Homo sapiens: one gene and its partners. The protein of the gene in region 3 interacts with the protein of the main gene of each other region in a pairwise test. Each region holds a gene or a part of one and is shown on either strand. Other genes may lie near its edges.

Region 1 (6,068 bases), on a different chromosome or scaffold from region 3:
ATTGTATCAGAGTCTCTGGGGGTGGAACCCAGACACCAGAATTTTCTATAGGTCCCCATGTGATTCCAATATGCAGGCACATTTAAGAATTTTCCAGAATTGAAAACATGAGCCCACAGATTGAAAGTACATACCAAATACCAAGCAAAAAAAAAAAATAACAAATCTACAACTAGTCAAATCATAATGAAGCTGAAAAATGTTAGAGGATAGAGAGAAAATCATGCAAATATCCTAGAGTGAAAAGATAGATTATCTACAAAGGAAAGAAAATTACGGTAATGGCAGACTTATCTGTAACATTAGGTGACAGAAGACAATGAGTTAAAAATCTTCAAAGTGCTGAGGGAGGGAAAAAAACTATGAACATAGAATCCTACAGCCTGCTAAATTATTCTTCAGAATGAAACAGACCTTTTCAGACACACAAAGCTAAGACTCTACTACTCAGACCATCACTGGAAGAATTACCTTACACAGAATATACTTCATTATAAAGGTAACTGAGCCAATAGGATTACAGAAGTATTTATTGGTATTAACCAAGTCTGACTTCTACCTGGAAAATACAAGATGTATGAAACATATGCATCATTGAGAGGTCCCAATGGCCTTAAAGAAGGTAAAACAGCTCAGTGCAAATAAATAAATTTTACATTAAAAGTTTTAGCAGGGCTCTGGCTAATTTGAATTGTTTTCTTGCACTTTTGTAGAATTTATCCCCAGTTTTCAACTGTGCAAATTTCCATAACTTGAAATAATAAAAGAAAGCACTGCCAATCTAGCAATGTTAAAAAATGTTTCCCATTTTCTTTCATTGAAAAAAATAGGTTCTATACATTTATATATTTATCAAAATTTCAAAACAATTTTATTTTTTGCTATAATTATCTTATTTTCTAGAGGACCTGAAAATAATTTAAGAACACCAACGATAATCATTCAGTCTCACCGATACCACACACAGTTGACCCTTGAACAGCATGGTTTTCAGCTGTGTGGGCCCACTAATAATGCACATCTTCTTCCACCCCCGCAACAGCAAGACCAACCCCTCCTCCTCCTCCTCCTCAGCCTACTACTCAGCATGAAGATAGCATGAGTGAAGACTTTTAGGATGGTCCACTTCCACTGAATGAAGAGTAAACACATTTTCTTTTCCTTAGCTTACACTATTGTAAGAAAACAGTATATAATACATATACCATACACAATATGTGTTCATCAACTGTTTCTTATTGGTAAGGCTTCCCATCAAGAGTAGGCTATTAGTAGTTAAGTTTTGGAGGAGTCAAAAGTTATACATGGATTTTCAACTATGTTGGGGAGTGGTGCCCCTAACTCCTGTTGTTCAAGGGTCAACTATATTTAGTTTCTTTTCATCGTTTCTTGGTAACTTCAACCACATATGTTAATTTCATTAGATTAATCCACAGTACCATATTCTAAGACTTACCACAAAGAAGAAAAACAGACTCTTAACCCAGATGATAATTACATATTTAATACGTGTTGCTTTTAACAGCAATTTTTAAAGTAAACACATCATAGACCTTATAACTTATTAAAGATTTTATAGTGCTTACAAAGTTGATTCTAAAAAATATACCTTATTTGTTCTAAATGAATAACATTATCTGGAAGATATAATAATAAATTATAGTAGTATGTTTTCCACCACGATAGTTAAGATTGTGTACACATATTCAATATGAAATCCTCTTAGGATTTTCACACCTTCAGCCTGAAAACATAAAAGCAGATTAAAGTTTGGCATACAAGATCTCAGTCTGATAGTAATTGCTTTAAAACTCAAAGTGTAAAAATATCTACTTGACATTCTAGGAAAGCATGGCCACATGCACAGACACATTCTCTCACTCACTCCAACACACACGTGTGCACACATACTCACACCCCAGAGTACTCAGAAGATCTTGCCCTTGTGGATCAGACAACTGCCACCAATTTCAAAAACTAATGGAAAAAATTAGCTAAGAATATGTTTAAACCATACTTAAGAGGTGCTGGTTGCCATTAAGATCTTTAACATGCAGAGAATGCCATCTCAATACACTCTTAAACAGACTTGAACTATTCACTAATGGATACACGAATACATGAGAAATTATGTATTCATCCACCCCCAAGACTGCATGTAAGATGAAAAACCTAGGCATTCCACCAACGAGTCATATGACTGAACCCAGCTAAAGCTACAGTGGTTTGCTTCACAGAACCCAATAGAAGACAGAACCCAACAGATTTAGAAACCTCATTGTGATCTGTTTGGAGTTTCCTATATGCTCCATGTGCAAAAGCAATGAGATTCTGTATTGCAGATGACAGCTAATATCACTTTGCACTTTTGTGACACTGCAAGAGGTCACTGTATTTCCAAAACATGTATTTATTCTAATTAAATCCTCTAATGTTCCTTACTTTTAATTATATATACTGTTCCAAATTTAGAACCAAAACAATTTAATGCTGATAACCTCTTCTGCTCATCACATATACTTCCAGTAAAACCTGTCAAAACAGAAAATTACTCTTTGGGCTGTCTCCAGTAACGCAGGTTTGAAACCAGAAGTTCATTTTCACCCTGTATCAAAACACTCCAAACTCTATGAAACAACATTAAATTAGAAACTAACCACAAATTAGGGCACTCATAACTCATACTGCTGTGATTAGAAAAATAAAAAGGCACAACAGTAAGCTAAAGAGAAAATACCAGCTCCCCATATGCTTTTTGTTTGTTTGTTTTTGGCTTTCCTCTTATTTTATTTCACTAAGTCTACAAATTGTTCAAAGCATTCTTATACTCTGCATGACAGGAACAATATCTTGGCACATTAACATTGTGATACAATGTATGGCATGTTTTAAAAAATTAATTTAAAAATTTCATCTATTAATCAACACTTTTTAATGTAGTACATATATATCTTACAGTTATTTAAGTCAAATATGTAAAGGTTTACAACTGATTTACAGATGAAGCAATCACAGATTGCAGTAATATGTGTGTGTGTATATATATATTTATCCATATATACACACACGCCAATCAAGGGGAAAACTGCATCCTGGCAATTTTACAGTCTGAAGTTTTGTTGGTATATCTACCATTTCACATCCTTTTCATCTTGCTTTTCTGTACAAAAGATATTTTTTGCCTTCTTCATTCCTGATGAGATTTTTCTGCGATAACTTTACATTCGTACTGCAAAAATTAAAAGGTTAAAAGGTTAACAGATTAAGACTTCTTTTGAATAGCAACTTCCAAATAAACTGAAAAGCTCTAAAAATGAACATTTTATTACTATGTGCCCATTTATTCCTCAAATAATCCAAGAGTTACATAATTACTATGATTAAATGACAAATGTGACAGGGAAAAAAATAATTCACATTCTGGAAGTGAAAAAGCCACAGCCAAAAGCAAGAGAAAGATGAGATTTCTGCATTACAAGCAAGTAGTGGCAGTATATGATTTAGAATTTAGATCAATCTTTTAATGTCGAAAGGAAGCAAAGCAGGTTTCTTTGAGTATTCAATAAGGCAAATTAGCAAAGAATAGTTCATGAACTTAAGGATAGGGCTGTTGTGGTGAACTCAGATCACTGTATTTTCAAATTGCTATATGATATAAAGGAAAAAATCTGTTACATTAACAAAAGCTTCCAGTCAAAACAACATTTTTAAAGTACAGCTATAAAAATGTACACCCACAATTCAAAATAAAGGAAACCAACAGGGTAAGATAATTGGTTGGCTATTTTACCAAAAATACAGCAAAGTAAGTCACTCAATTCTCCTAACCTGGCTAAAAAGGTAAAAGTGACAGCACTGATTCATAAAACTGCTGTGGCCTCTGAATGTCACTCCCTAGCCTTTTCCTTTTCCTTCATCACTAAAATGATCAAACATCTTGATTTGTTAGAGGTGGTCCTAATGTATACCTATTGTAGCAACACACTTATTAGTAGTGACCTTTTTAACTTTTAAAACTGTCCTTTTCTGATATAGTGGGAGACCTGTAGATTAGTTTTTTAAAAACCACTAATATCCCCCATATGGTCAATAAATCATATTGCCCTATCCATAACACATTTTGAGTTTTTCTCTCCAGTGGCTCCTCAACTTTTAAAACACCTGTGATTAAATTCTTCCAAATGATTTATTTCAATGGAAGTGCAAAAAAGCAATCAAAGAATGTTGTCTTCACAAATTGCTTTCCCTTAAAGGACTGCCTTTTAGAGAAAACTTGTCATTTGTTCCACATCTTATTCAGAAAAGTGAGCATCAGCTTACCATTGCCAGTTGTCGACCAATGTTTCCCATTGTTATGCCTCCAGCAAAAAATATACATGGTAACCAAGAACGAACATAGAGGAAATCTGGAGATGTATATCTAGAATAACAGACATGTCTTTAATACCCACAGAGGAACTGCAATGACACTTAAGATAATTACAATGAAAATAAACTACTCTGTAGATTAAACTGGCTAACCTCATTTCATAATCTCAATTCTGAAAGCGGTTATCATTTATTTATCTAGCAAACAAGCACCAAAAATTGAAGGATTAATACTTACTGGTAAACACCATTATATACTAGCAGTTGAGTGACCACAGTTGCCAAGAAGGCAATTCCTACTCCAAGGCCAAAACCACTTCTAGATCTATCAAAAGTCCACCACAGTCCAATGGATAGTGCAGCCAGTGTGAGAGACAACTGTATGTTGTTATCGAAATCCACTTTCTGAGATCAGTGTTAAGAAGTCATCTTAAAAGTTGTAACCAAATAATATCATCTGTTCATTTTTCTAAATAAGAGATGCCTCTGTTGAGAAGGGAATTAATTGCTTCTACTCAAGTACATTCAGTCTCTTAGTACAATGTATGAAGCTAGGTGGGATTAAAACTGTCTCCAGTATTTACCCAATACCAGATACACAAAAGACATTAATCAATAGATCCTACCAACTGTAACCCCTCCAAAACAAAAAACAAAACAAAACAAAAAGAACAGTCTACATACATTCCCAATTATAAGGCTTTACCCATTATTTAAGAAATGCTTTCTTTGCTAAAAATGTAACTGGAAGCCTCAGAACACAAGTATCACTAAAGGAACACACTTTTGCAAAAAAGGAAACCAATATTACTTCTCCAACAGGTTTAGAATTACTTGAGAATCGTACAGGAACTTGAAAATAGAAGAGTTGACAGCTATTTAACAGGGTACCACATTCTCTCTATGATTTACTGACAGACACATTTTATAATAATGCAGTTCAGAAACAAGAGTACCAAGGACACAGTATCCCTTTCTATTATGTCAACTGTTCTAGTTTTAATTTGTTGAGGATAAAGCCTTGAAGTGAACATTATCTTACAACCTGCCAAGCTATTTTGGTGCCTGAGACTTTCTGGTATAGGACAGTTTGCTCAAATGATATTTTATTTTCATCACCTACTTAAGCATCTATTCACAAATGTATGGCCCTTTTCTACACCAAAATCTCTGGGTAAAATTAAGCTTTACAAATTCAGTTTTCTCATCTCTTTGCTAGAGGATTACACTAAAGGAATTAATTTCAAGTGTCATTAAAAGGGCATTATCTATGTCCCAAAGGCCACATCTTGGCTCTATAACCAGCTACTGGGGAAGGCGGGGGAGGTTTGGGAGAACACGTATCACCAAACTGACCATGCTGCACGTATAGAGAAATCCAAAAAAGAAATTGCAACGAAGCCATTTCCCACTTCCTTTAACACTCTTTTTCACCATTTCCCCACCCCTACCAAGCAAGTATCCTAAACACCCAGCTTGCTTATTTCTCAGAATCTCAGGACTATTGTGGGCAACTCCCTCAAGGTCCTTCCTTGTTAAGGCTTGATTTAAAAAGAAACCTACAGTTCATATGGGTATGCTTCTGGAAAAGCTTTTCTTATTGTTATGCTGTCATTATACTTAAAGTTCAAAGAAAAGGTTTAGAGCTCTGATTTCCCTATGAAATAAACACTCATGTAAAGAGTGGAATTTGGTATTAA
Region 2 (7,041 bases), on a different chromosome or scaffold from region 3:
AGACCCTGACTCTACTGCACTGGGCTGGGGATGGTAAGGGAACACGGCAGACGGCAAGGTAGATGCTGACTCGTCTTCCCTGAGCTTCGCACCTAGCAGGGAAGCAAGCATGGGACGCCAAGCCCCAGACCTATGGGAGCAGAGAGTGGAAGGATTTGAGCTGCTCGAGGAGGTCAGAAAAGGCCTCCTTGAGGATGAGCAGGAGTAGCAAGGAGTGAGGGGCATCCCTAAGTGCTCGAAAGATGCCCAAATGAATAATCAGGTGAACACACTGATTTCTGCAACTGATGGGAACTGAGGGTGAGACTTTGTTCAAAGCTCTATTAAAGGATCTAAGTTGTGTGCAATAATCCCCTCCTAAAACTTAGGACAACAGTATTTTCTATTTTTTTTTCTCTATGCGTGTTTAAAGGAGGGCTCCGGGAAGCAGACAGGGAGAAGGAGGTGGCCAAAGCATTTGCCAGCAGAGGGAGGGGAAGGCTGCTGTTGTGGCCTGGCAGTGCCCTGGCCAGGGGCTCACCTGGCAGCTCCTTGGCCTTGCCCTTGTCCACCAGCTCCAGGCCGGCCTCGGTGGCTGCGCTTGTGGCTTCCATCTGCTGCAATATGGCCTCCACGATGGGCACCATCATGGCCGTGGTTGCCGTGTTACTGATCCACATGGACAGGAGGGCTGTGACGCCCATGAAGCCCAGCATCAGCCTGCAGAGGAGGGGCAGGGAGGAAAGCCAGAGAATCCCCACCCCACCCCCGTACTCCCTGGGAAGCAACTGGGGACTGGGTCCACCCCTGCAGGGATGCACAGGTGTTGAGGCCAATTCAAGATCAGATATTGGAATAGGGATGACGGTTTTAGAGCCTCCCCTCCCTCCCTCCTTCCCTTCTTTGCTTCCTCCATTCCTCTCTCCCTCCTGCCTCTCCCACACCCATGACTGATGTCTACTCTGCTTGCTTCTGGGGTTACCAAGAGGCCTCAGATCCAGTCGTGGTTCTAAGGAGCACCCCTGCCCCACCATCTAGCAGGGGAAGCCCAGGCATCCAGATGGTGCCAACTCAATATGAGCTTGCCCTAGGGTGTGCTGGAATACCCCTATGTGCAGGCAGCCCCAGCTTCCCACTTCTGGCTAGGAAATTCCCACCCACCCCCAAACTCTGTTGCACCTCTCAGAAGTTCAGAAGGGCTAAGCAGAGTAGGGGTAGGGTGAGCTGGGGAGGGAGCTTGGGAAAGTGTGACTATTCTCCCGGCTGCCACTCCAACCCTGCCATCTCCCCTCCGCCCCGCACATACACTTTGACCCCTCCATGCTGCAGTGGAGCTATCACACAAACAGTATTCAGAAGAAACACTCCCTTTGCTTGTAACCCCTGCTCCCTTCTCTGCTGTCTATCAGGAAGACTCCTCATGGTCCTTCAGAGCCTGCTCAAACAACATCCCTCCTCTGGGACCACGCTCTCAGTGTGTGCACCAGGTGGGGCTGGCCTGACCCTTCTCAATCCTTCCCCCTACTCTAATCATCGCTGTGCTGGGTTCAAAGCACCTGTTTCCATGTCTGCTCTCTCCTTGGGCTGTGAGCAGGGCAGGGCCTGACTCTGCTCTGTGGCTCTACATGCCCCAGCTGTCCAAGGCTAGGGACAGAAGGAGCTCAGCTACTCTCAGTCTGTGGGCCTCGCTGCAGCCAGGCTCCTCCTCAGGGCTCCTAATTCACCTGGGGGTAGGAGCAGGGGCAGGGGTAGGAGCCTGAAGAAGGGACCTAGGAGCTGTTCTGCACCAGGGCCCAAGCTGCTGTCCACACAGGCAGACATTATGGACCCAAAAAAAAACAAAGCCCGGGACCCAGGCTAGGAGGAGGGGGAGAGTTTGCATGAATGGAGTTGTCTGAGAAGAACCAAGGCTTCTACATGATATCTCAAGGCACCAAGGGTGCCTCACATACAGGTGACTCCCAGGACAGGCAGTGCCTTGGACAACCGGAGACCATACTCAGAGGAGCAAGGTGGCAGGAAGGATACAGAAGCATGTGTGAACTTGGGTTTGGAAGTGGAAGCTCTCCAGCATGCTGCAGAATGAAACCCACTGGAGTGGCCTCCCACCCAAGCTGGCCACTCAAGGGAGCCAAGCAGAAGAATTCTGAGGGCCCTGAGGTCCACTTTCCTGGGGTCTCTCATTTCTAGAAAATATGATGGCTTTTGATTTGATGCTAAAGCAATTACTGGAAGGAATCAATGCCAGGATGTGTAACAGATCAGAGAGCCACAAAGTCCCCTGCTCAGGGGAATCTGAGGCACCAAGGGAGCCCCGGGCATGGGTTGCCTGCAGGGCAGGCTAGCGTCTGTGTGTGCTCAGGGTCTAGCACAGCCCCTGACACAGGGGCGCCTCAGGAGGAATTTACCGTAAACTGACCAGCAGCTGACTCCTGATGGCTGGGCCAAGGACGTGCCATCATTGAGGGGACACATTGTCTCAAAAGGAAGATATGCCCTGAGTTTCTGATTAGAGAGGACACAGGCCTTATCAGAGAAGCTGGGTCCAATCCCCGTGTGTCCATGAGCAAATCACTTTATCCCTCTCTGCCTCCAATCCCTCATCCACAGAATGTGGGCAGTAAGAATACTCAGCTCTCAGAGTTGTGGTAAGAATTAAATGAGGCAATTCATAAGCTCCTGGTATCATGCCTGGGGCCTTGTAGACACTCAATATACCCATTATGATCATGATTGATTATGGTTATGATTATGATTATATTGACTCCATGGCTTAGCTGGAAATGGCTAGCTAGATTGGCAGGAGAGATCCTGGAAATGGAGAGAGAAGCTGGGGTACTGAGTGATATCGGGGAAGATAAGAAGCTTCTTTGCAGTGGGAATAGATGCTCCAGCTTGGAGAGAGGACCTTTCTGCTTCCCCATGAGCTGGGTAGTTGAGCCACTTCTGGCCTGCTTCCCTTATCCTATCAGACACAGCTTGATCCAGCCTCTATCCAATTTGTTCCCGGTGGAACCCTGCAGCTAGCTGCCTCCCCCAGAAAGCCTTCCAAGCCTGCAAGGACTCTTGCTGACCCACCTCCTCTGGATTCGAGGACCCTTACTTACTGCTGCTCACCATGTGCCACCACCACGCATGCATCTGGTCTCTCCCACTAAAGCTATAACGCACCCCACCCAGCCAAGTCCAGGTAAGCCCATGGCCAGCCCTCACCAGTGGATGGCCTGGTCTGTGCCATCCTCCACCCCCTTCCAGCCCTGGGGCTCATGCAGAGCCACGTGGCAAGAGAGAGAAGGCGTAATTACCGTGCAGGCTTGGCCCCCACCCAGAGGAGCGTGCGCAGGGCGATCCTCTTGTGCAGGTTCCAGCGCTCCACAGCCACGGCCACGATGAGGCCGCCCAGGAACAGCATGTTGGTGTCCTTCATGTACTGGACACACACCTGGAGCGTGGCACGAAGGCCTCATCAGGACTGTCCCTTGCCACACACTAGAGCCACCCAGTCCCCAGATGCTGACTTCAGGGACAGCTTGGAGTGGGGATGCAGGCTCGAGTGGTGTCTCCCTGCCAGGGAGAATCCACAAATGAGGGTTTTCCGGTCACCCCCAGGCCTGTGCGACTCACAGTGGGGACTAGAGAAAGAGAGAAGGGGAGAACCAGAAAGTCACCAGGATCCCTTGGGTCTGCTCACCTGCCTGGAGTCCAGAATCTGGAAGAGTGGGAAAAGCAAGACAGGCATGAGAGAGGTGACAGCCAGAGGGATGACTTCTGTGCACCAGTAAATGGCCATGAGGATGATGACGTAGGCACACCTGACAAACTGAAGAGACAGTCCTGAGGCCTCAGCGTGTTGCCGCCTCCCTCTCCCCACCCCCAGAACACTCCGGACGGCGGCTGGCATGGATTGTCAAGACACAGTGCTGATCTCAGAGGGATTCCCCTCAAAGTCATCTTGTTCCCCAGCCCTGGTCAGCACAGCTTTCCCGGGTCAGGCCAGGGATCTATTCGCAAAGGACTCCTGCCCCATTCCCACCCCTCCTCCCTGCCTCCCTCCTTCCCAGCTGTGTGGTTCTAGGCACGTTCTTTCATCTTCTCAAACCTTGGATTAGCTGCCTCTCAAAAGAAAAGATCAAGAATAGGACAAGGAAGAAAAGGAGAAAGAAGGAGAAGGAGGAGAAGGAGGAGGAGGGGATAGAAGAAAGAGAGGAAGGGGGATGGAGAAGGAAGAAAAGAAAGGAGGAAGAGGAGAAGGAGAAGAAGAATAAAATACCTGGTTTTTTTGGTTTTATTATTATTTTATTTTTGAGATGGAGTGTCGCTCTTGCCGCCTAGGAGGCCATTGTTCTAAGAGAAGTGACTCAGCAATGGAAAGCCAAATAGTGCATGTTCTCCCTTATAAGTGGGAGCTAAGCTATGGGTATCCAGAGGTATATAGCGTGGTCGAATGGATACTGGAGACTTAGAAGCAGACAGGGTGGGATAGGAGGGAGGGATTAAAATCTCAGACTTCACCACTATCCAATTCATTCATGTAACCGAAAACTACGTGTACCCCTAAAGCTATTGAAATAAAAGTAATAATAATTATGTGATAAAACTAGCCACCTCCCTAGGTTGTTTTATGTTTCATCAGTATTTTTTGTGTGTGTGTGTGTGACAGAGTTTCGATCCTGTTGCCCAGGCTGGAGTGCAATGGCACAATCTCAGCTCACTGCAACCTCCACCTCCCGGGTTCAAGCGATTCTCCTGCCTCAACCTCCGGAGTTGGGATTGCAGGCACCTGCCACCACGCCCTGCTAATTTTTGTATTTTTAGTAGAGACGGGGTTTTGCCACATTGGCCAGGCTGATCTCGAACTCCTGACCTCATGATCCGCCCACCTCAGCACCCTAAAGTGCTGGGATTACAGGCGTGAGCCACCGCGCCCAACCTCAGAGTTCCTTCTTAGATGTCTCCCTGCGCCTCTTCTATAGTCTGGTTTGTGCCCTTCCTCTGAGTACCCTCCCCAGCCATTAGCATATGGAGTTGTCACTGTTTCCTCAACTGTCCTTCTACCACCACAACCAGTGCGTGACTCGAAAGCACAAACAGTACAGTGAGTCCTCACTTAACATCATTGATTGGTTTTTGGAAATTGCAATGCGTAAGCGAAACAACATAAGCCAATATTCCCATAGGCAAATTGCTAGAAACAACAGTTAAATTTCTACAGCATATTTCTGGTCACAAAAACATCACGGAGATCTTAAATAAAGACCAAAACACTTCCAATATTAAACACTGAAGGGAATGTGAGCTATACATATACTTAAGAAACATTGAAAACAAGTTAGATAATTATTTACCCAGTTACAGCAGGTCAGGGTCTTGGGTGACCAGATCCTGTCCCGGCAGCTCAGGGTACAAGGTGGAAACCAGCCCTGGACAAGATGCCATCCCATTGCAGAATGCACACTGACACGCACGCCCACGCTCACTCAGACAGGGACCATACAGACACTCCAATTCACCTAACGTGCACGGGTTTGGGATGTGGAAGGAAACCATACTAGCCAAAGAAAAGCCATGTGGACATGAGGGTAATGTGCACGCTCCACACAGACAGTGGCCCCAGCCAGTAATCATTTTCTTTTCTTTCTCTCTCGCTCTTTTATTTCTTTTTTTTTTTTTTTGAGACAGGGTCTGGCTCTGTTGCCCAGGTGGGAGTGAAGTGGCACGGTCACAGCTCACTGTAACCTCCATCTCCTGGGCTCAAGGGATCCTTCCTTTTTTTTCCCTCCCTCATCAACATTATAATGAAATGATATTGAATGAATCAACATTATTCAAGAACCTGCTGTATTTGTAGATCACCGTCCTCAGCATCCAGAACAGGCCCAACACTTAGGATATCTTTGCAAATTCTTGCTTATTTATTTATTTATTTATTTATTTACTTACTTACTTATTTTTGAGACAGAGCCTTGCTCTGTCCCCAGGCTGGAGTGCAGTGGTGCAATCTTGGCTCACTGCAGCCTCTACCTCCCAGGTTCAAGCGATTCTCCTGCCTCAGTCTCCTGAGTAGCTGGGACTACAGACAAGCGCCACCACGCCCGGCTAATTTTTGTATTTTTAGTAGAGAGGGGATTTCACCATGTTGGCCAGGATGGTCTTGATCTCCTGGCCTCGTGATCCACCTGTCTCGGCCTCCCAAAGTGCTGGGATTACAGGCATGAGCCACTGTGCCCGGCCATCTTTGCAAATGTTTATTAAAGGAATCAATAGCATTCATCTGAGTTTAACTCTGACAATGCTGCTGAAGAACAGATGCACCTGTACACAATCCCTGCTTCTCATCACCCAGAAGAGCGTATGTATTATTTGCACAAAACAGTGCAGGAAGACTTGGAAATTCTTTGTCAGGGTTGTGTTATCAGCCACAAAAAAATAAATCTTTTTTCAGCATCCCACGAGCAAACCAGGGCACCTCCCTACTGGGAGGCAGGGTCCCTCAGCCTCGGCACACTGACATTTTGGGCTAAATGATGCTTTGTTGTGGGAGCTGTGCACTGCAGGGTGTTTAGAGCACCGCTGGCCTCCACCTATGAGATGCCAGTAAGACTGTCTCCAGGTTGGACAGCAAAAAATGTCTCTGTACTTTGCCAAAGTTCCCCTGTTGTGGGGCAGGGTGAGGGCAGGAGAAAGGGTCAATGCTGGTTGACAGCCGCTGAACTAAAGGCGGAACAGCAGCGTGACTGGAAGCCCAGGCTTTGACACCAGACAGATATGATTGGCGCCCACTGTCAGCCACTGTCTGGCCTTTGGCAGCCACTAACTTCCTTGGGGCTTGGTGTCGGGGTGTACCCTGGGCAGGCCATCAGAATGATGCCTCCAGGGGCAGACAATGAGAGGGCGCATTGGAGAGAATTTTAAAACAATAATATTAGCTAAAAATTAGTTTGCTTCTTACTATCATCAAGTGATAGCAATTCTAAACAATGTCGCTCATAAATTACTCCTCCTGCTCCCAATCCTGGTCCCTGTCCCCTCTTGTTTCATGTCTTCATCTGCAAATCGTGGATT
Region 3 (7,041 bases):
CTGGAAATGGTAGGGACGCAAGGGCTGGCTTCCAGGACAAGCACATGCATTATGTGTACTCCACTTGGACTCGGAATCTACAGACAGCATGGCCCTAAATACAAGGGTGCATTCTAGGCAGAACATGGAGAAACTAACAACCCAAATCTCAATTTTTTAAAGAGATAATCAACTCAAGATAAAAGAAAGGTGCCACTGTTTTAGGAAGGAACGGATATCTACAGCTAATGACAGCATCTCCTTAGAATGGAGAGAGGAAATGGAGCTGCCACTGTGAGACACGTGAGAAGGTGTCCCTCATACTTAGAGCATGAGAGCACCCATTACTCTATTCTTCCCTGGAGTGGGCAGCAGCCAGAGAAGATGAGGACAAAAGGCTTTCAAGAGACCTACTCAAAGGGTTTAACTTACATATTTTATATGTGTATGCAGGCTGGTAAACAAAATCTTTTTTTTTTTTTTTTTGAGATGGAGTCTCACTCTGTCGCCCAGGCTGGAGTGCGGTGGCGTAATCTCGGCTCACTGCAACCTCCGCCTCCGGGGTTCAAGCGATTCTCCTGCCTCAGCCTCCCGAGTGGCTGGGATTACAGGCACGTGCTGCCATGCCCAGCTAATTTTTGTATTTTTAGAAGAGATGGGGTTTCACCATATTGGCCAGGATGGTCTTGAACTCCTGACCTCATGATCCGCCCACCTCGGCCTCTCAAAGTGCTGGGATTACAGGCATGAGCCACTGCGCCCGGCCAAACAAAATCTTTTTTAAAAGTGCACACCTGGAAAAGCAGCTCTAGTCTCTTTCTCTGGCTCACTGCCTGGGGTGGAAACTGCACAGGCCTATGTGTCCACCGCGTTTCTTCAAATGAGGTCACCACACCTGCATCTAGAAGCAGGTGCATCCTGCAGGCACTGTGGCATCTCAGGCCCACCTTTGTTACGCTTTGTGACCAGCCGCTGAGGGGTCTGACACTGGAGCGCCACAGGCTGAGCGAGCCAGTGAGATCTCCCCGCCTCACACACCACAAGCATCTTCTTGCTGGGTGAGCACGGAACACAAGGACAGAGCAGGGATACTTAGGGGGAGGCTGACAAAATCCAATTCTTTAACTGGAACTTGGAAGGACACGTTCTTCAGTAAGACACTGAAGTGAAAATTAGATTTAAATGGAATCAAGGTAACTTCTGCAAATAAGTGTATTCTCCAACTTCTGTGACTTGGTCCACCCCAGAGCGCAGGTGTCATGTCCTCAGAAGTGTTCCTGGCTCAGGTGGGAAGGACATTTTCCATATCTGAAGGGACTGAAATACATCCTGGAATAGTCGGTTGATCTCCAATTCCTACCCTTTATTTCTTTAAAAAGAAAAGAGTCAACCAAACCAAAAAGGAGTGATTCACATGTCATTTTTTCTCAATGTTCACATATGCATTAACCTTCATCTACCCAATATTCCTTCCTTCCTTCCTTCATTCATTCACTAGGCACTGATTGTCTAAATGGCACCAGACACTGCACGACGGTGGACATACAAAAATGGGGCATGTGGCCTGCCTGCCAGGAGGGGGCGTCCACTTGATGCTAAGCACCCATCTGCAGGCCATCCACTTGCAAGGTCCCCTCGACTCCCTGCCAATATTGCATCTAAAACCTCGAGTTCTAGAGCATATGCTGCTCTTCCTTCCTGCCTCCCTCTTGATAACGAATAAGAAACCTTCAAACGAAAAGGAATTGGCAAATTGTGGACTGCTGTTTGGTAAAATTCAGGGTGATATGTTGGTGCTGGGAAGGACATGGAGGTGGGCTGGGTGTCTGGTGGAAGGGAGTCCACAGCGGCCCCCGAAACTTCACACCCACCTTCCCCGGCAGCTTCCTGCTCCTCCTCCTGTCCGTCGGGGATGACAAGCTGGTCTCGCTCAGGGCCCTCCATCTCTGGATTTTCCTGGCTCACTGACAGGGCAGCCTGCACCTGTGGGGTCTGGCCCAGTTCTCCGGCTCCCCCGAAGCCTCTTCCACCTACAGGTCTGTCTTCCACCACCTGCTCCCGGCCTGGCTCCTGCGGCAGCCTGTCCCTCTGAGGCTCCTCATTCACCACCTGGATCTCATTGGTTTCCTCTGTGCACAGAACACAGTTAGCTGTGACCTTGCCAGCATTTGATTTAAAAAAAAAAAAAAAAAAAAAAGCAAAACCTGGTGCCACTCAATTCCCAGAGCCTTCCCAAGGAGTGGGGGTGGGGTGGGCTGCACACAGGAGAACAACCAGGTAGCTCCTTTTGTGACCTCAGCCACAGACTGCAGGCCTTTCTGTGCCTGCAGCTCATCGTCAGAACCGCGACAAAGGGAAAAGTAGCTTACCAAAAAAAAAAACAAAACAAAAAAAAAAAAACACCTGGACTAAATTACCTTGACAAGGTACAAAGGGAAAAGGGTATCCTGCTGAGTGACCTGATCATCGGGTCCGCTGGAGCAAGCACTTGGGAGCCAGGGCAGGCAGGCCCACCCAGGGCTTGCTCACAGACACAGCAGCCTCCTGGTTCCCAGTGTCTGGGGCTCAGCCGCCTCCCCCGAGTCCCACAAGCCCACCAATGTCCTGCATAAAGGTGCAGCCTGGGCCTTTCTCTACACAGCTGCCCAGGAACAAGGCACTTCGTTTACAAGGAGGAGACATCTGTCAGAGAAGCCCCAAAGCCCCAATTCCAGGGGCCCAGAGAGACACGTCCCTGCTCCTGGCTGCGCCGCTGCCGGGTTCACTGACTGCCTCAGCAGCTCGCTGGGACTGCTTCCTCTGATGGGGCTCTGGAGAGCTGGGAACAGGGCAACTGCTGGGCTCTGCTTACCTTTCTCAACTTGTCTCTTTGAATCCAAAACCACTTCGGAACTGGGGGCTGGTGTCTGGGACTTGCTGTTACCAAGCACGTTTCCCTTCCCTTGTGGCACCTCTGTGTGTGGCAGGCCTGCTGCCTGCAGCCTGGGCTGAGGCTCACTGAGGGCTTGGAGCTGAAACAGAAGCACAGGACAGCCAGCCAGGGCAGGGCTCTGTGAACAGAAGCCGTAAAAGAATCCTACCAATGCAATGAATCCCACCAATCCCACCACCATATCCTTCCAACCAAGACCCCGAGAAACGCCACAGTCTACTCTGGTCACGCCCTGGTCATGTGGCGTAAATCAGAAGACAAGAGGTTGAGTCAAGGTCTCCCAGAAAGTACTGTCAATACAGAATAAAACTGGGCAGTGATTCTGCTGAGAGGAAGCATTTACGGAATAATAAAATACCTAGGCGGAAGATCAACAACAAAAAAGACATGAACGACACAATACTCCTTGACGAAACAAACATCTGCAGAACCCTCAGCCTAGCAAGGGCAAACACACCTGCTTCTCAGGCACACACACAATATTTTCCAGGATGGACAAATGGCAGGCCACAAAGCAAGCCTCCATACACTTAAATATTTAACTAAAATCACACAAAGTAAATTAATAGAAATGGAATGGATTATAAATCAATAACAGGATGAAACTTATGACATTTGCAAATATTTGGAAATTAAACAACACACTCCTAAATAACCAGTGAGTCCAACAATAAACCACAACACAAATTAGAAAATGCTTGGACAGCCAGGCGCGGTGGCGCACACCTGTAATCCCAGCACTTTGGGAGGCCGAGGCAGGCAGATCACCAGAGGTCAGAAGTTTGAGACCAGCCTTGCCAACATGGTGAAACCCCATCTCTACTAAAAATACAAAAATTAGCCAGGTGTGGTGGCAGGCACCTGTGATTCCAGCTACTTGGGAGGTGAGGCAAGGAGGTGATTTCCAGCTGAGGCAGGAAAATCGCTTGAACCTGGGAGGTGGAGGTTGCAGTGAGCCAAGATCATGCCATTGCATTCCAGCCTGGGGCGACAGAGCGAGACTGTCTCTCAAAAAAAAAAAAAAAAAAAAGAAAATGCTTTGCCACAAAACAAAAACACAGCATACCAAAACTTATGGGAAGCAGCTCCAGCAGTGCTTAGAAGAAATGTACACCTTCAAGCATCTGTATTAGAAGACTTCCAGTTTTCTGTTCCTCACGTGAGAAGCTTAAAAGTCACCACTTAGTCCTAACAAGTAAAAAACTAAACAGACTGAAAAGTTATCAGCTCTTCTTGGATCCATAGGAGAGGTGAGGACAGAGTGTAAATCACTGTCCTTAAGCCTGGAGACAGACAGCCCAATACAGAGAGTCCCGGCTCACCAGGACAGGCTTGGGCAGACATCACCACGGGAACTGGTGTCAGGGTGGGAGAGCCTGACCCTGTCATTTATGAACTGTTTGAGGCTCAGTGTGGATGAGTCTGAGAGTTAAAAACCTGCCCCAGCCAGGCGTGGTGGCTAATGCCTGTAATGCCAGTACTTTGGGAGGCTGAGACGGGCTGATCACCTGAGGTCGGGAGTTCAAGACCAGCTTGACCAACATGGAGAAACCCCGATATACTAAAAAATACAAAATTAGCCAGGTGTGGTAGCGCATGCCTGTAATCCCAGCTACTCGGGAGGCTGAGGCAGGAGAATTGCTTCAACCCGGGAGGCAGAGGTTGTGGTGAGCCAAGATTGCGCCATTGCACTCCAGCCTGGGCGATAAAAGCAAAACTCCAACACCAAAAGAAAAAAAAAAAAAAGAAAAAGAAAAAACCTGCCCCAGTCATAAGGGACTCCCATACTTATGAGTTTTACCCCTAGGAGCTCAACCAGGCTCTCAGTGAATATTAGAGAAAGGCTCTCAGTGAACATCAGAGAAAAATCGGCTTGTGCTTCCAGCAGTGTGGCGGGGAAAGGAACCATTCTGAAACAGGCCAGAGTGCTCTATTCTCCTTAACCAGGCCGGCCCTCACGAGGAGCGCATTACCCAGAGCTCCTGCGGGCATATTATCTGAGCCTAACTGACCTGGGGGAATGAAACACCCAACTCCAGTAAGCTCTAGACTTCCACGTGGGAGAAGGAAGCTACTCAACTCCAGCCCATTCCAGCCACTTTGTCCCACTGGGGTAGGGAGTGGGTACTGAAGAGAAGCATAGGGGACATTCACAGCCAAGGGACTCAGGCTCACTAAAACACTCAGGCTCACTAAAAACCCTCATACTTACAGCACACTGATTTCTGACAAAGGTGCCAAGACAATTCAGTGGGGGAAAAGCAGTCTTTCTTTCAACAAGTGATTACTGAGACAACTTGATAACCGCACACACACAAGAATGAAGTGGGAGCTCTACCTCACACCATATGCAATAATTAAATTAACTGAAAATGAATCACAGGCTTAAACGTAAGAACTAAGAACGATAAAACTCTGAGAAGAAAATGTAACAGTAAATCTTCAAGATCTTGGGTCAGGCAAAGTGTTACTAGATATAATACCAAGAACACACAACAAAAGAAAAAATAAATAAAATGGGGATTTTGTCAAAATTAAGAACTTCTGTGCTTCAACTAAACACCAGCAAGAAAGTGAAAAACCCCACAGAATTGGGAAAAAAAACTTGCAAATCATATATCCATTATCATATATCTTTAATAAAATAGATTTTAAAAACTCTTACAATTCAATAATAAAAATAACTCAATTAAAAAATGAGCAAAGGACCCAAATAGACATTTCTTCAAAGAAGATATACAAATGGCCAATGAAACATGTGAAAAGATGCTGAATATCATCAGGGATATCACAGTTATTAGGGAAATGCAAACCCAAACAACGAGCTGCCACTCCACACCTGCTAGGAAGGGTATCATGAAAAAGGTAGTATCAAGAGTTGGCAAGGATGTGAAGAAACTGGAGCCCTCATAAACTACTGGTGGCAGTCGAAAATGGTATGGCCACTTTGGAAGAAGTCTGGGAGTTCCTCAATAGGTTAAATATAGATTACCATATAACCCAGCAGTTCCACTCCTAGGTATTAACCAAGAGAAATGAAAACATATGACCACACAAAAGCTTCATGTTCATACGGCATTATTCATAATAGCCAAAACATGGAAACACTCCAAATGCCCATCAACTGATGATGAATAATCCACATGTGGTCTATCCACAGGATGGATTAATCAGCCATTAAAGGGAATGCAGTACAGACACATGCTGCAACCCCGATGAGCCCTGAGGTATTCATACTCAGTCAAAGATACCAGACAGTCCGGGCGTGGTGGCTCACGCCTGTAATCCCAGCACTTTGGGAGGCCGAGGTGGGTGGATCACTTGAGGTCAGCCGTTCAAGACCAGCCTGGCCAACATGATGAAACCCCGTCTCTACTAAAAATACAAAAATTAGCCAGGTGTGGTGGTGGGTGCCTGTAATCCCAGCTACTCGGGAGGCTGAGGCAGGAGAATCGCTTGAACCTGGGAGGCAGAGGCTGCAGTGAGCTGAGATCGCGCCACTGCACTCTGGCCTGGGTGAGAGAGCGAGATGCCCTCTCAAAAAAAAAAAAAAAAAGTCAGACACAAAAGGCCACACATATATGATTCTATTGACAGGAAATTGTCCAGATTAGGCAAATCAAGAGACACAAAGTACATTAGCAGTTGGCTGTCTAGGGCTGTGGGGACTGAAGAGAGAACTAAGGGATACACGGTTTCTTTTGTGCCAATAAAAATGTTCTGAAATTGACTGTGGTGATGGCTGCATAACTTTGTGAATATACTCAGAACCCATGAATTGTAAATTTTCTATGGGTGAATCATAGGGAATGCAAATTATATCTTAATAAAGCTGCTATATTTTTAAAAAACTACTCAAAGATCACCCAGAAGGCTTCAAGCAGCAGCTTCGTGGGCTGTGCTCTGCACAGGAGGTGGAATGACAGCACGAGACATGGAGTCGGCCAGACCTGAGGTCTTGATGGGCTCTACCACTGACCAGGTGGTGTGACACTGGCCACAGAACTTAACCCCTCCCATGGGGCTGGGGTCCTCAAGTCAGGAAAACAGCAACTCTCTCCCAGGCTGGCTGCGAGCTTTAAATACGATAATTCCCGTAAAGCCCTGAGCTTGTGAAGCGGGGCTGGAGG

What was found.
Region 1: the proteins of GOLM1 (region 3) and INSIG2 interact in binary tests that used the Homo sapiens proteins (3 or more experiments, as listed by UniProt).
Region 2: the proteins of GOLM1 (region 3) and SLC13A5 interact in binary tests that used the Homo sapiens proteins (3 or more experiments, as listed by UniProt).

What each region holds. Positions count from the first base shown.
Region 1 is NC_000002.12:118,105,442-118,111,509, reverse strand, and holds the end of INSIG2 (insulin-induced gene 2 protein), read right to left. Parts: intron 4,774-6,068; coding exon 4,607-4,773; intron 4,421-4,606; coding exon 4,321-4,420; intron 3,230-4,320; coding exon 3,188-3,229; coding exon of another isoform or gene 3,148-3,187; 3' UTR 513-3,147; downstream 1-512. UniProt on the Homo sapiens protein: Oxysterol-binding protein that mediates feedback control of cholesterol synthesis by controlling both endoplasmic reticulum to Golgi transport of SCAP and degradation of HMGCR.
Region 2 is NC_000017.11:6,703,358-6,710,398, forward strand, and holds part of SLC13A5 (Na(+)/citrate cotransporter), read right to left. Parts: intron 3,800-7,041; coding exon 3,671-3,799; intron 3,422-3,670; coding exon 3,285-3,421; intron 700-3,284; coding exon 521-699; intron 1-520. UniProt on the Homo sapiens protein: High-affinity sodium/citrate cotransporter that mediates the entry of citrate into cells, which is a critical participant of biochemical pathways.
Region 3 is NC_000009.12:86,033,518-86,040,558, forward strand, and holds part of GOLM1 (Golgi membrane protein 1), read right to left. Parts: intron 2,991-7,041; coding exon 2,831-2,990; intron 2,109-2,830; coding exon 1,851-2,108; intron 1-1,850.